2 linked regions of the Homo sapiens genome follow. The protein of the gene in region 2 interacts with the protein of the main gene of each other region in a pairwise test. Each region holds a gene or a part of one and is shown on either strand. Other genes may lie near its edges.

Evidence for each region.
Region 1: the proteins of RNF141 (region 2) and MVK interact in binary tests that used the Homo sapiens proteins (3 or more experiments, as listed by UniProt).

Annotation. Positions count from the first base shown.
Region 1 is NC_000012.12:109,569,568-109,576,793, reverse strand, and holds the start of MVK (mevalonate kinase), read right to left. Parts: upstream 3,001-7,226; 5' UTR 2,921-3,000; exon of another isoform or gene 2,119-2,920; intron 1,986-2,118; coding exon of another isoform or gene 1,972-1,985; coding exon 1,894-1,971; intron 797-1,893; coding exon 649-796; intron 1-648. Other genes in the region: corrinoid adenosyltransferase MMAB precursor, read left to right, coding at 3,314-3,447, 5,084-5,145. UniProt on the Homo sapiens protein: Catalyzes the phosphorylation of mevalonate to mevalonate 5-phosphate, a key step in isoprenoid and cholesterol biosynthesis.
Region 2 is NC_000011.10:10,538,169-10,545,928, forward strand, and holds the start of RNF141 (RING finger protein 141), read right to left. Parts: upstream 3,020-7,760; 5' UTR 2,954-3,019; intron 1-2,953. UniProt on the Homo sapiens protein: May be involved in spermatogenesis.

The DNA of each region.
Region 1 (7,226 bases), on a different chromosome or scaffold from region 2:
GTTCAAGCGATTCTCCTACCTCAGCCTCCTGAGTAGCTGAGATTACAGGTGTGTGCCACCACACCCAGCTAATTTTTGTATTTTTAGTAGAGACATGGTTTCGACATGTTGGCCAGGCTGGTCTCGAACTCCTGACCTCAGATGATCCGCCCGCCTTGGCCTCCCAAAGTGCTGGAATTACAGGCATGAGCCACTGTGCCTGGCCTACTTTTATCAATTTTTAATTATACAAAATGCCAATATATTCTCCTTATTTAAAACATGTGTCACTTTGTCTACTCTCTGGCCCTAGGTCTCTCCCAGGAGAACTAATCACCACTGCCAATCTGATGTCTATGCCCCCGAGACCTTTTCTATCATTTATACACATATTTATACTTAAATACGTATGTTTGCTGTTTTGCATTTTTTTCACTCAACAATAGGCCTTGATGATCTGTCCACAACAGCCCACAGAGATCCAATGCATTGTTTTACACCTATAAATTTTAAAAAAATAAAATGAGTGAAGCTAATTTTATGAGGTCAGGGTAGAAAACACCCGGGAAATAGCTGGCCCCTGGCTCCCTTGGGGACAGCCCAGAATACCTGGCCAGCTGCCCTCTCTGTAGGCTCTTAGCACACCTGGTTTCTCCTCCTTGCACTCACCCAGAAAGCTTGTGTCCAGTGACTGAAGCCTGGCCACATCCCAGGCCCGCTTGATACCAATGTTGGGTAAGCTGAGGTCCACTTTCCCATTGCTGTGGGGTTGAAGCCGGAGGAATGTTCTCAAGTTCAAGGATACAGCCAGTGCTACCTATAGAATAAATGACAAAAGCAATAAGCCTGAGGGTGAGTGGCAAAGGGGCCAGGACCCACGTGCTAAGAAGAGAGCAAACATAAGCACAGAGGCCACTCCTAGCCATGCCCTTGCCAGACACTGCTAATCAACCTTGGCATGCTCTCCCACTAAGCCTGGGAACAGCCACCATCGATCAGCTAAAAGTTAAAATCCACTTTGCCTTCTGCCTGCAAAATTTCAGAGGTTCTCAATACCAAGGAATCACTTCCCCATAATCACCATGTTTTCAATGAGAAATATAAGAACATAAAGAATAGCAGTGAGAAGCCAGGTGTGGTGGCTCATATCTGTAATCCCAGCACTTTGGGAGGCCAAGGCAAGAGGATCACTTGAGCCCAGGAGTTTGAGACCAGCGTAGTGTCAGACCACGTCTCTACAGAAAAATAAAAGAAAAAAATTAGTGGGGCATGGTGGTACACACCTGTGGTCCCAGCTACTTGGGAGGCTGAGGTTGGAGGCTGCAGTGAGCCATGATCGCAAGATTGCACTCCGGTGACAGAGCAAGACTGTCTCAGGAAAAAAAAAAAAAAGCAGAGTGCAGCAGAGGTGGTTTCAGACAGACTTAGGTTCACACCAAGCTCTACCAAGGTATATAGGACTTGGATCAAGTTACCACTTCTCTCCTAAGCCTCAGTTTGCACATTTGTAAAATAGGATAATAAAAGGGTATGCCTTGGGGGTAGCTGTAAGGGTAAAATGAGATAATGGATGTTTTCAACTCCTTTGCTAGATCATCCTTCCAACTTCTAAATGTCTTAGTGCCCCGGAGCTCAGTTCTCAAACCTCTTTCCTTCTGCATCAAAGCTCACTCCTAGGTGATCTCATTCCACTCACAGGGCTTTATATTATAATCATCTTTTTGCTATCATACCGAGCGAGGCCCAAGAATCCCTTCAGTGGGCATAAGAAATCTTTTCCTTGCCTGGCTGGGGAGAACCTGATCTCTCTGATCTGCTCCCAAGCTGTGCCTCAGGGTGTCCTTTTACCTTCTTACAAAATTAGCATCAGGGAGAAGGGGTACCCAATCCTTAAAGGCTCTAACGGCTTTGTACCTTGCCATGTACCACGGCATGTTCTCCATGAAGGATGACTTTCCCCGGAGCAGACACCAGTAGGACTTCTGACAACATGGCTCCTGGGAATCCTAAAAGGGAAAGCCAATGAGAAGAGCAAAGATCTCTAGATGTCAGAACCAGCAGGAAGAGATCTTAGAACACCTAGTTCAAGCCCATCATAATAACAAAAAAGGTAGTTACCGTCCAGCACTTGCTACGTACCAGAAAGGCAATGCAGGAGTCAACTGGACACATCCAACAGATCTGGGTTCAAATGCCAGCTCTTCCACTCCCCAGTGATGTCATCTTAGTTAACTCACTTAAATGGCTAAGAACCTCGGTTTCCCCACACGTTATATGGAGAGAAAATAACCGTACCTACCTCGGTGGATGTTAGGAAGGTTAAATTAACGCAAGGGAAACACTTGGCGGTGTCTGGCACCTACTAATCATTCAATTACTGAGAGCTACTTATTACTGGCTCTGTTCTTCGTTTCAGCTTTTACAACTACTACTATTAAAGGTAGAAATTACATGAAATCATGGAGCAGAAAGAACTCTTTGCTGGACATTTAGGCTGTTTCCAATGTGTCACAATTATAAACAAGGCTGCAGAAAACACCCAGTACGCCTCGTTTTGCACACTTAAATGAGTATTTCTGCAGGACAGAGTCCTAGAAAGGAGCTTGCAGGGTCTATAGGTGTGTGCAATTTACACTTTTATACATAACGCAAAATTATCCTCCGCTTAAGGCTTTACGTAGATTACCTTACGCTAAGATTCAGGTGTACTATGAGCTAAGTACTATCGTGATCCCCATTTCTTAGAAAAACTGAGGCTCAGAGCGGGGAATCCCCTTGCTTGTCAAGCTCAAAATCACGACTGTCAGATTGAGGTCGCCGATCCCTCGGGGCAAGACTCTCAGAGCTGGGTAAACTGAGCCACAGAAGCTGGACGCCTGGCTCAGCGTCGTCCTGGGTCTAGGACCTCGCGCCGCCCGGCCGCCCGACCCCGGCCTCTCACCTGCCGCCGCCGCCGCCTCCCCGGCCGCCGCCCCTCCGCGCCGAAGCCGGAGCAGCTCCCCAACTCCCACAACCCAGAGCGCCCGTGCCTCAAGGGGAGGAGGCGTTGTACTTCAGGCCAGCCAATCAGAGCGCGCGAGCCCGGAGTACCTTTACCAATAGGCTTGAACATTGGTCAATAGGTGTTGCAGCCAAGCCGACACGGGTTTTCCCGCCCCGCTCCTTCCGTTAAACCAATGGGAAACAAGTCCCTGGGAGTGTCCCGCCCTGGGGTGAGAACTGCGAACCAATAAAAATTGAAACCTGAGCGGTGGCGCGGCCAGCTGTGGGTGGAGTCACCCCGCGGACTGGACGGGAACCTGGCGGGGTCAGGTCCCGTCAAGCAGCCTGGCTCATGGCTGTGTGCGGCCTGGGGAGCCGTCTTGGCCTGGGGAGCCGTCTTGGCCTGCGCGGGTGCTTCGGCGCCGCCAGGCTCCTGTATCCCCGTTTCCAGAGCCGCGGCCCTCAGGGCGTGGAAGACGGGGACAGGTGAGTGGCTGGCGGGAAGGGCAACTCGAACACCTGCCGTGAATCGTGGTGTCGTCGCCATGGGTACGTCACACCGCCGTGAGGTCACCGCGGCAACCGTCAGGTGACGTCTCCACGCTGTTCTGACGTCACCATGGCAACGTGGGCCACGTGGGCGCCAGAGACCAGGTAGTCTTTGCCTAAGTCCCAATGAAGTCCCGCTATCATCGGGCAGGGCAGGGCATATCCCATGTGGGCCAGGAGGGCTCTCGACTCAGATTGTGACCAATCTCCAAAGCAGTTTATTCCCCAGGTCCCAGATACACCAGCACCTTCTAAAGATGGCTTTCCTCATATTCCTTGAAACTTGCACCTCAACCCAGACCTCAGAACCTCTAGAGTACCGTGGATTAATAATGGATTAATTTAGTTCACAGATCCAGGAAATTAACCTTCGAATGGGCTTGTAATGTCACATTTTAATTTTGAGCTATGTCCTTGAGTTGTTTACATTGTTTTTTGAAAATGCCACTTTTTGAGCTGTATTTTGGCAATTCTTCATCTCTGAGTACACTCGAAGCCTCATACTATGGAAGTGGCTCAGGTTTCTTTTCCTGCAAGAGGCCCTGAGTTGGTGGAGTATAAGATAAAAATTTGGGTAGGATAGAGTTAAGAGTCCTAGCTACTTGGGAGGCTGAGGCAGAGGATCACTTGAGCTCAGGAGTTCAAGGCTGCAGTGAGCTATGATCATGCCACTGCACTGCATTCCAGCTTAGGCAACAGAGCAAGACCCTGTCTGTGAACAAAATAATCATAGGCCAGATACGGTGGCTCACGCCTGTAATCACAACACTTTGGGAGTTTGAGGCAGGAGTATTGCTTGAGCTCAGGAGTTCAAAACCAGCCTGAGCAACATGGTGAAACCCGTCTCTACCAAAAAAAAAAAAAAAAAAAAATTAGCTGGGTGTGGTGGTATACACCCGTGCTCCCAGCTGCTCGGGAGGCTGAGGTGGGAGGATTGTTTGAGCCTGGGAGGCAGAGGTTGCAGTGAGCCTAGATCGTGCAACTGCATTTCAGCCTGGGTGACAGAGTGAGACCCCATCTCAAAATAATAATAATAATAATAAATAAATAAATAATTTCGGTAGGATAGAAGTTACAGTTTGTGCTCTGGTCTAGGACAGTTTTGGGCATCCCACTCCTGCCTCTTCTTGGATGGTCTAGGAAGGTGTCTCATCTGAGCCATAGTTTCCTCCTCAGTAAAATGAAGAGAATAGGTGTTGGCTACCTTTGGGGTTGTGGAAAGATTCCAGGATAATTCCAGAAGATAATGCCTGTAAACTACTTGGCACAGTGCAGGGACAATGGCAAAGGATCAATCAAGTCCTTCAGCAAATATTTATTGAGCATCTTTGTTGAGCAAGGCATTACATCAGCTACTCTACACACTCTGTCATCCAGCTCTGGTCTTGCCCACAAAATGTTTGCTATTAGAAAGGATCTAGGGGAAAGAAATCAACAAGAGATGACCATCTAAGCAGTAAGGGGTAAGTGCTGCCTCTGAGGTTACAAGCAGCAAGCTGGGACCCTCTGAAGGAGCTGACCCTCTGTGTAAGCCATCCCCACTCACCAGATACTGATGTTTATTTCTCATTAGGCCACAGCCTTCCTCGAAGACACCCAGGATCCCCAAGATTTACACCAAAACGGGAGACAAAGGTAGGGTGGGGACAGGTGAAAAATGCAAAGAAATACTCATGGCATACACCATTTTAAAGTTCTTCCAAATTCTTTGCAGCCACTTTAAAGTATAATATACCAGGCGCGGTGGCTCATGCCTGTAATCCCGGCACTTTGGGAGGCCCTGTTGGGCTAATCATCTGAGGCCAGGAATTTGAGACTAGCCTGGCCAATGTGGTGAAACCCCATCTCTACTAAAAATACAAAAATTAGCTGAGTATGGTGGTCCATGCCTGTAACCCCAGCAGCTACTTGGGAGGCTGAGGCAGGAGAATTGCTTGAACTCGGGAGGCAGAGGTTGCAGTGAGCCAAGATCATGCCACTGCACTCCAGCCTGGGTGACAGAGCAAGACTCCATCTCAGAAAAAAAAAAAGTCTCAGAAAAAAAAAGTATGATATTTGACAGATCTCAAAATATGTTACAAAAATGTAATGTGAAATGAAAAACACCCAAGAGATATTAAATGACAAAAGCCTGAATCTGTCTGGATAAGCATGTACATATATGTGTGTTCAGGTGTGTGTAGAATAGTCTGAAAGGTTACACCTGGGACTGTTCTGGGAGAGAGATTAAGTTGTGAGAGGGGAACAAACAGAAGGACTTTCACTATTTACATACTTTTATTCTATTTTATTATTTTTTATAATGAGTATATATTACTTTAATAGTTTTTAAAATGCTAGAACATGTTATATAGAAAAAAGTAAGATGCAGAAGAATGCGTTGCTATGATCCTTTTTTTTTTTTTTTTTTGATACAGGGTTTTACTCTGTCACCCAGGCTGGAGTGCAGTGGCTCAGTCATGGCTCACAACAGCCTCCACCTTTCAGACTCAAGCAATCCTCCCACCTCAGCCTTCTGAGTATCTGGGACAACAGGCACACATCGCCATGCCTGGCTAATACTTTTTAATTTTTTTTGTAGAGATGAGGTCTTGCTGTGTTGCCCAGGCTGGTCTTGAACTGCTAGGCTCAAGGTATCCTCCCAGCTCAGCCTCCCAAAATGCTGGGATTACAGGAGGCATGAGCTACCGCACCAAGACAGTATACCATTTTTTGTAGTACAAAAGCATGCAGACCACTAGTATGTATTGTTTTTTGGATATATACTTGTATAGTAAAAGTATAAAAGCATGTACGGGACATACTCAGTGCCACTGAATGGTAAACTTAAGAAGGGTCAAAATGGTAAAATTTCTGTTATGTATCATCTGTTACCACAATTAAAAAGAAGGAAGAGGATGTTGGAAAGGACTTATTGTAGGGTTGGGCTTGTGTTGGGTGGTTACAAGGAAGTGGGGCTTTGTTCTGGATTGAATCCTGTTAGGAAGCAGGGCTGTTTCTGTCACTGGGTATCTTTTTTTGTTTTTTGAGACAGGGTCTAGTTCTGTTGCCCAGGCTGGAGTGCAGTGGCACGATCTCAGCTCACTGCAACCTCCTGGGTTCAAGCAATTCTTATGCCTCAGCCTCGCGAATAGCTGGGACTACAGGCATGCATCACCATGCCCAACTAATTTTTTCTGTTTTTAGTAGAGACGGGGATTTGCCATGTTGGCCAGGCTAGTCTCGAACTCCTGGCCTCAAGTGATCTGCCCACCATGGCCTCCCAAAGTCCTGGGATTACAGTGTGAGCCACTGCACCTGGCCTGTAATTGGGTATGTTAATAATTTGTTTCTAGAAGACAGAAGGGACAAAGAGGTGCTAACGCTGTAATGGATAAAGATGCAGCAGTCACTCACATTAGCCAGGGAAGGGGGAGGTTTGGTCATCTTTTGGAGTTTGGACACAGTCGTCTGTGCTCAGACGTTCTTCCGCAGTGGCCTTGTCTTGGTCTCGAACCGTCATAGTCATAGAGTGGCCTGTCTGATGGTTTTCTGTGAAATGGTTTGTGTTCAGCAGAACACCACAGTCTACCTGTGAGTGCCAGGCCGGCACCTGGCAACCCCAAAGCCTGCCCGATAGCGAAAGCCAGCTCCAAACTGTCAGGGGCAGTTTTCACTTTCTCAGAGGTTGGGGGAGAAAGGCGGGACTGTGAGCTAGGCAGAGGCACAGAGGACTT
Region 2 (7,760 bases):
CAGCATATTAACTTGTTATCTTGTAACTGTACTTGGTATCTGGGAAACTTCATCACTAACTCCTTGCATTAAAATGCAACAGTATCTAGAGACTACCTGAGAGAGCCTGCAGAAGTGGTTTTCAACCTGGTTCCAGAAAGAGGGCTTGACATTTAGTTTATTTTGAAAACCATAAAATATTGATAAATATTAACATCTATCACTATATGGGTGTGAAAATAAGATATGACTCTGTGATCTGCATACAATATAAAACCACAACACAGAGTGCATGTTCACGAAAACAATCTGTTGAGGCCATCCTCTAGTCAACCACCACAGCTTTTCAGTGTCCCTCTTTGGTGACTGCACATATTTCTATCATACTATGACATTCGTTAAGTCACTTGGCCATTTCCCTCTAGTGAGCTTCTTGAGGACAGCAGCTATGGTCTGTCTTCTGGCAGATACACAAGCACTCAATAGATGTTTACTGAATAAATGCAGTAAATACCATTGGCAGTTTTTGTTTTATTATTATTCACTTAGTATTCTTTTGACTTTTGTTAATTTGGTCAGTCATCTATTAGTACTAGGTTGGAGAGAAGCAGAAGTTAAAAATATGTATGAAAGAAAATGTAAAACTGTGAAAATCTGTCATTAAATTAATGCTTATGTAAACTGGGAAACATTTACTATTTGATTTTAACAAGATACTCCCCCCTAGGCCATGCAACAGTGGTATTGCATAGAAACATAATTTGCAAACCACTGGCACAGAATTCAACAAAAGATGAATTTCTGGTCAAGATTTCTCAAAGAACTAGCAGCTCTCATATTATTGTGCCACCTATAACACAGTCATTTTTTGCAAGATAAAAATATGCTTTCAAAAAGCATTTGAAGGATTTTCTAAATAAAGAACTGTTATTTTGAAATGCACAAGATCAAGGATTCCAAAAATGCCACATTCTCTAGTGGGTGGTACATAGTGAATCACTTATTTTTCTAACAAATGAATTGTGGAAGTTCAAATATTCCTTATAAAAATATTAAAATTACATCATGGGTAACTGGCAAAGCAAAAACGAAAAAACTGCTCAAAAACTCCTAAAAATTTAAACCATAATTCATTCATAAAATAACTAAAGCAAAATGGAAAAGGCTGAAAATGCACCAAAATGACTAAATGACAAGTACTGCACTGTAGTATTTTAAAAACCTCTCTGAAACCAGTTCTCCATCAAATTTTGTATCAACCTCACCTAAAAGGATTTAATTGAAATAAACATCAATGATTTTCACTGTCAAGTCAACTTTAACATCAGTAATAAATACCAAGTACTACTGACTGGGTCCCTAAGGATATTATTTACTTTATTACTCATTGTTTACTCAAACTGTAGATCTGTAAACAGATATCAACTTTTTTTTTTCAAGACAAGTTAATATAGATACATAGTGAAATAATTAGGCCAGAGTCACTATAGAGTCCAGAATGCCTGTTCCAGAATCAAAGATCTTGATCAGAAAAAGATACATACATATATATTAGAGAGAGAAGGAGAGAGAAACTACAAAAGGATAGAGTGCCGTACTAGGAGATTAAGAATATGGATTTCTCACAGTAACAGTGTGTTTACTAAATGCATTTCATATTGGAAAAAGCATATTAGACTTGTAAGAATTCTCTCTGGACCTCCCTTGCCTTTTTGGGAAGGAAAGCGTGTTTGTATTTAGATGGGAACCAAGAAGGATCAGGCTACACACATCGAATATAAAGTTCATTTACACCAAATGACAAATATTAATTTTTGAAACATATAGTCATATTCTTGAGAAAAAGTTCTAGAAACTGAAGTCAGGCAATGTGAAAGAAAAGGATAAAAATCCATACTATTTTTGAGCTCTGAATTCAGAAAGCATCACTTCTCAGACGGGTGACTTCGACATGGAGGTGACTAATTTAGGATCGTCGGCCGGTGGCAGCTCATGCCCCCAGACAAAATTCTGAATGGGTAGAGGTCATTTTATAGCAAGAAGAATGGGCAGAAGGGAGTGAAAACGAATAAATTCGTGCTGAAGATGTAAGAATTATAAACAATTGAAAGTGTTCCAGCAGCTTTATATATATGCCAGAGGCAAGAACTGAATTAGCTGGCACCGCTAAATAGGACAGTGTCAGAATATAAAAGGTACACTACCTTTAATAAGGGGCATAGGGATCGATTTCAATAACAATCGTAAATCCACATTTTGTAACGCCGAGACAAATAACTGAAGGAATAATTTCAAAAGCTAACACAGAAGCCTTCTGCTCCTGCTGTGTAATCACTACCTTCTTATTATTAGCAAGAAAACGTTCTTTTCTTAGCCGGGTCTCAAGGTAGCAGCTAGTTTGACAAGGAAAGACCTTTGGGAAGGGTAGCAGCCTAAGCCAATTCATAAGTGTGGGGCTGGCTAAGTAGATCGACGTGGCTATTTCTGAGCTATCGTCCCAGGCAAAAGGTTTCTTATTTGGGTGTCCAGCCCGGCGGAGACCGAGCCCGCGGGCCACCCTAGCGCTCGCTCTGGCTACGCCGCCTCAGCCCCTCCTCAAGCGCACCTGGACATTTAACCAACAGCTAAGTCCGGCGGCCGAATGACTGAGCCGGCGGCAATATTCAAACAACCGTTTTGGGATAGAGAAGGAAAAACTCTCTCCGGGTCCCTCAGAACCACCCCGAGGCGGGACAAGCCACCGCCACCCCGGGCAACTGGAACCCGCCGGGCAGAAGACGGGCGTCAATAGAATGGCCTCCCCAGCCGTCCCCACGCCCCAATCCGAGGCCCGGGGAGGGCGGCGGGGCTAGGCCTGTCTCCCCGCGGAAGCCTGGCTCGGCAGCGGAGGGCCCTCTGGGGTTTCTCTTCCCAGACCCAGAGTCCTGGAGCAGCTAGCAAGGGAAACACGAAAGGACAGCGCCGCGGAGCTCACCCCAGGTTCAAGGCATCGCGCACCCTGCGGCAGCGGCTGCGCTGCCTCAGCCCACAGCTCAGACCTGCGGGTGGCCGCGACTCAGGCCGGGACCCGGTCGCACCTCTGTGACGCAAAGCCCCGCCCCCCGCGCGTTGCCGGGAGACGGCGCCCAACCTTCCTCTGCAGCGCCCCTACCGACCCGCGCTCCGCAGCTCCTGAGGGCTTTCGAGCCCAGATGGTCATCTGAGACGAGAGGTGGCGGCGAAGGAGAGTCTCGCCTGTCACGCTCCCGGAGCAGGGGCTTCATGAGGTGGCCATGGAAACAGCCTGGCAGACTCCCATCTCTCCTGGTGCCATCTCCGGAGCGGAAAGTGGAGCGCCCCGCTGGCGACCAAGGCCGCACTGAGAGCCCTGGTTTGGTCAACAGTTGGGCTCCAAGGTACCACTTCCCAGACCTCCAGCCTCCCCACTGATGATAGATACACAAAGGTCATCTTGTTTCTTTATGAGGCAATGGATTGTGTTCACCTAGCCGAGTTGTTAAGCATAAGAGAATGTATGAAAAGTAATTACAAGGTTCAAAATCCTGAGCTTTGATAAATGATAGATATGATGATGAGCACATGTTAGTGATATTACTGCTCTGCGGGACGTCTGAATCAGTAATTGCTGTCTTTTAAGCATCTGTTGTGTGCCAAATACTGCACTAGGCACTTTACGGGCATTGCTCTTGTTTAAGTCGTCTGGTCAAAGTTGCCTAGACAATAAACAGCAGAGCAAGGATTTTAACCCAGGTACAGCTGACACTGCTGCCTCTATGCTTAGCAGTTAAACTGGTTTTTATGTTTCTTGTTTGTACACCCCTCCTTCACCAGTCACTTGTAGATTCACCTTGTGAAGAGCTAATTCTTCCCTCTAATAATAATACTCTTTGACCATTTACTATATGTCAAACCGTATTTTAAGGACTTTAAAGGTATTAATTCGTTTAATCTTCACAGCAATCCTGTGAGTAGGTATTATTAATACCTTCACTAAGACACAGGCTTAGAAAAGTCGATTAACTTTTCCAAGGTCAAACAACCATTAAGGAGCAGAGCCAGATTCAAACCCAAGCAGACAGAACCCTGAACCTGTGTTTTTAATTCCTGTTTTAAACTGCCTCGGTAGTACGGTAAGACTTCATTAGCGCTAGGTCCATGCCTGTTTGTGCACCATTATTTCCCTGACAGCCAGCATGGTACTTGTTCAATATTTGAACATTTGATGAATATTTGAACACTGGAAAAGGAAAAAGCTTAAAAATGAAGTATAAATAATGATTTAATAAATTCCAAAAGATATCAAATTCAACAAGATTCCATAGTTCAGCCTAATCCGGGCCTGGGAGTTAGAAATATTACTCTGTAAAAATTGCCTTCAATTAAACATTGTATTGGAAGTTCTGGTCAATGAAATAAAAAAAGACAAATATATAAAAGGCATCCAAGTTGGAAAGGAAGTTGTAGCACTGCATTTATTTGCATAAGAAAATTGTGGAATACTACAAAAAAGCTGCTAGAACTCATAAGTGAGTTTACAAAAGTTGCAAGATACAAAATCAAATATACAAAAATCAGTTGTATTTCTATATACTAGCAATGAACAATTAGAAATGGAAAATTTTTAAATATCTCTTATCAGCAAAAAAAAAAAAAAAAAAAAAAGCAGCAAATTTGGGACAAATTTGACCAAAGATGAGAAAGACATGTATACTGAAAACTATAAAATATTATGGAATAGCAAAGACATGGAATCAACCCAGGTGCTTATCAATAGTGGATTGGATAAAGAAAGTGTGGTACATATACGCCATGGAATACTATACAACCACAAAAAGGACTAGATCATATCTTTTGCAGCAACATGAATACAGCTGGAGGCCATTGTCCTAAGCAAAATAATGCAGAAACAGGAAACCAAATACCGCATGTTCTCACTTATAAGTAGGAGCTAAACGTTGAGTACACAGACACAAAGTTGGGAACAATAAACACTGGGGATTCCAAAAGGGTAGAAAAAACTACTATTGGGTACTATGTTCACCACTTGGGTGACCTGGATCATTAGAAGCCTAAACCTCAGCATTGTTCGATATACCCATGTAACAAAACTACACGTGTACCCCCTGAATCTAAAATAAAATAAAAAACATTGTTAAGAGAAATTAAAGAAGACCTAAATAAATAGAGATACATTATGTTCATGAATCAGAAGACTGAGCATTTTTAAGATATCACTTCTGCCTAAATTGACCTACAGATTTAAGGAAATTCCAATAAAAATTCTAGCAGATTTCTTTTTGATGGAAATGACCAAACTAATTCTAAAATTTATATGGAGATGCAAAGGACCTAGGATAGTCAAGACTTTCATCAAAAAAAACAAAGTTTTGGGACTTACACTACCTGATCTCAAGACATTATAATAAGAGCTACTCAACACAGTATAGTATAGGTATGAAAATAGATAGAGTAATGGAACAGTATATAGAACCCAGAGATGTATCTATACATATGTCATCAATTGATTTTCGACAAATATGCCAAGGCAATTCAGTGGGGGAAAAGATAATCTTTTCAACAAATAAACCTGAAAAAATTGAATAGCATATGCCAAAAAACTCTTAATATCTTGCTCCTTTCCTCATACTGTCACAGGATCCTTGGAGTGTTGCTCTGCCAGCCAGAAACCTCTGTGGCCGGTGGCTCCTTTGCCCGAGTTTTGCTCAGGCCCACTGGGCTCATTCTGCCCATTTGGCCTTGCAGGCTGCACTCGGCTCATGCCACTGGCCCAGATCCCATGCCTGCCAAGGACGAGCCAGGCGCAAAGTGGTGAGGGGTGCGTGAGCAAGTGAGCGCGAGGTCTGGCCGCTGTGCACAGCTAGGCACGCCAGCTGTGGCGGGGCGGGTGGCTCCAGGTGCTGGCATGGGCGCTGGCTCCTGCAAAGCTGTGGCTGGACCAGGAGTACCACAAGCGGCTTCCACTGCTGGCACTAGGGAATGTGGTGGCACCTGGAAGCTTTGAGATGCCAGGAAATGCAGAGCCCCCAAGAGGGTGTTACAGTCCTGGCTCAGGGAGCTCTTAGGTCTGGGCTTCTCGAAGTGTCAAAGCTCTTCTCTCCTTCTCTCTTCTGTCCTTCTCATCGCTTGCAACATGGGGAGTGAGGGGGTGTTTCAGCCCTGTTTGTGTTACAGTTCTTTCAGTCCTGCCATTTGGCAGGTCCCAAGTTGTTGTCCCACATCCAGGAATAATGAGGTATGCAGACAATTGGAGGGTGAGTAGGGTGAAGAGGTGCTTTATTGAGTGACAGTATAGCTCTCAGGAGACTCTAAGTGGGTAGCTCCTTTCTGCAGGCAGGTTGTCCGGTTGTCTGCCCAGCTCTCAGCTGAGAGGAGACCCACAGTGGGTGGCTCCTTTCTGCAGGCAGGTCGTCAGGATGTCTGCTGAGCCCTCAGCAGAGAGGAGATCTGGAGTGGGTAGCTCCTACACGCAGGCAGGTTGTCCCCATGTTTCTTGAGTCTGGCTGAGCCTAGGATATTTATGGGCTCAAGAGGGAGGAAGTGCATGCTGATTGGTCCATGGGCAGTAGAAAAAGTGCCATAAGTTCTCACTCCAGTCTGAGGACCTGGCAGCCCAGCCCCCAGGCTTCAGACTCTCAGTTGCCTAAAGGTAGGGTTTCACTGAGGACCCACCCCTTTTTGCCCAGGAGCCAGTCTGCCTCATGCCACTGTCCATGGCACCAAGGCTGTTTGTGCCAGCGGGAGCCTGCAGGCCCACACTGAGCTGCCCTCAGCGCCCCCTCAGCTTCCCCTCCCATGCTCATCAGTGTCCAAAGTCCAGAGGGGGCTGAGGTGGCAGGGGGCTGGCATGTCAGTGTTGCCCCAAGCATGCACACACCTGCCAGATTGTGACAGCGTCTGGGCTTGGCCACAACTTTGCTCTGCCCCAGAAGCAGGGAGAGGCCAGACAGCAGGAGCAGGCACTTTCAAGCCTGTGGGGGCAAGGGGCTTCCTGGGCCCCTGAGAGCACAAGGATGCCCAGGTCCACAGCTGTGGTTGGGCAGCTGCAGCTGTGCCCAGGAGGGTGGGGCTCCCACCCCACCAACTCAGAAGCAGGTGGGGCTCCAGCCTGTTCCTGTTTTCATGGTTCTGTGGAGTGTGCAGCCCTGGCCAGGCCTCCCTCACTGCAGCTTGCATCTTTGCAGCAGCTGCTCCAGACGGGCTGCCACTGCCATCAATACTATATGTAAAAATTAACTAAAAATGGATCATACATCTAAATGTAAGAGCTAAAATCACAAAACTTCTAGAAGATATCTTAGTGACCTTGGATTTCTCAAAGACTTCTTAAAGATGGCACAAAAAGCACAAACTATAAATGAAAAAAAAAAAAAAGGATGAATTGTACTTCATCAAAATTAAATACTTCTGCTTTTTAAAAGACTCTGTTAAGAAAATAAAAAGGTAAGCCACAAACTTGGAGAAAGTATTTGCGAAACATATATTTGGCAAAAGACTTCTAACTAGAATACATAAATAACTCTTACAACCCAATAAGAAGACAACCCAACTTTTTAAAATGGGCAAAATATTTGAACAGACATTTCACCAAAGATTTATAAATGACAAAATAAGTGCATGAATTAATACCATTAATCATTAGGGAAATGCAAATCAGGAAAATAATAAGGTTTCACTGTGCACTGTAGCTACTAGAATGGCTAAAATTTGAAAGACAGATCATATCACATGTTGACAAGGATGTGGAACAACAGAAATTCTTG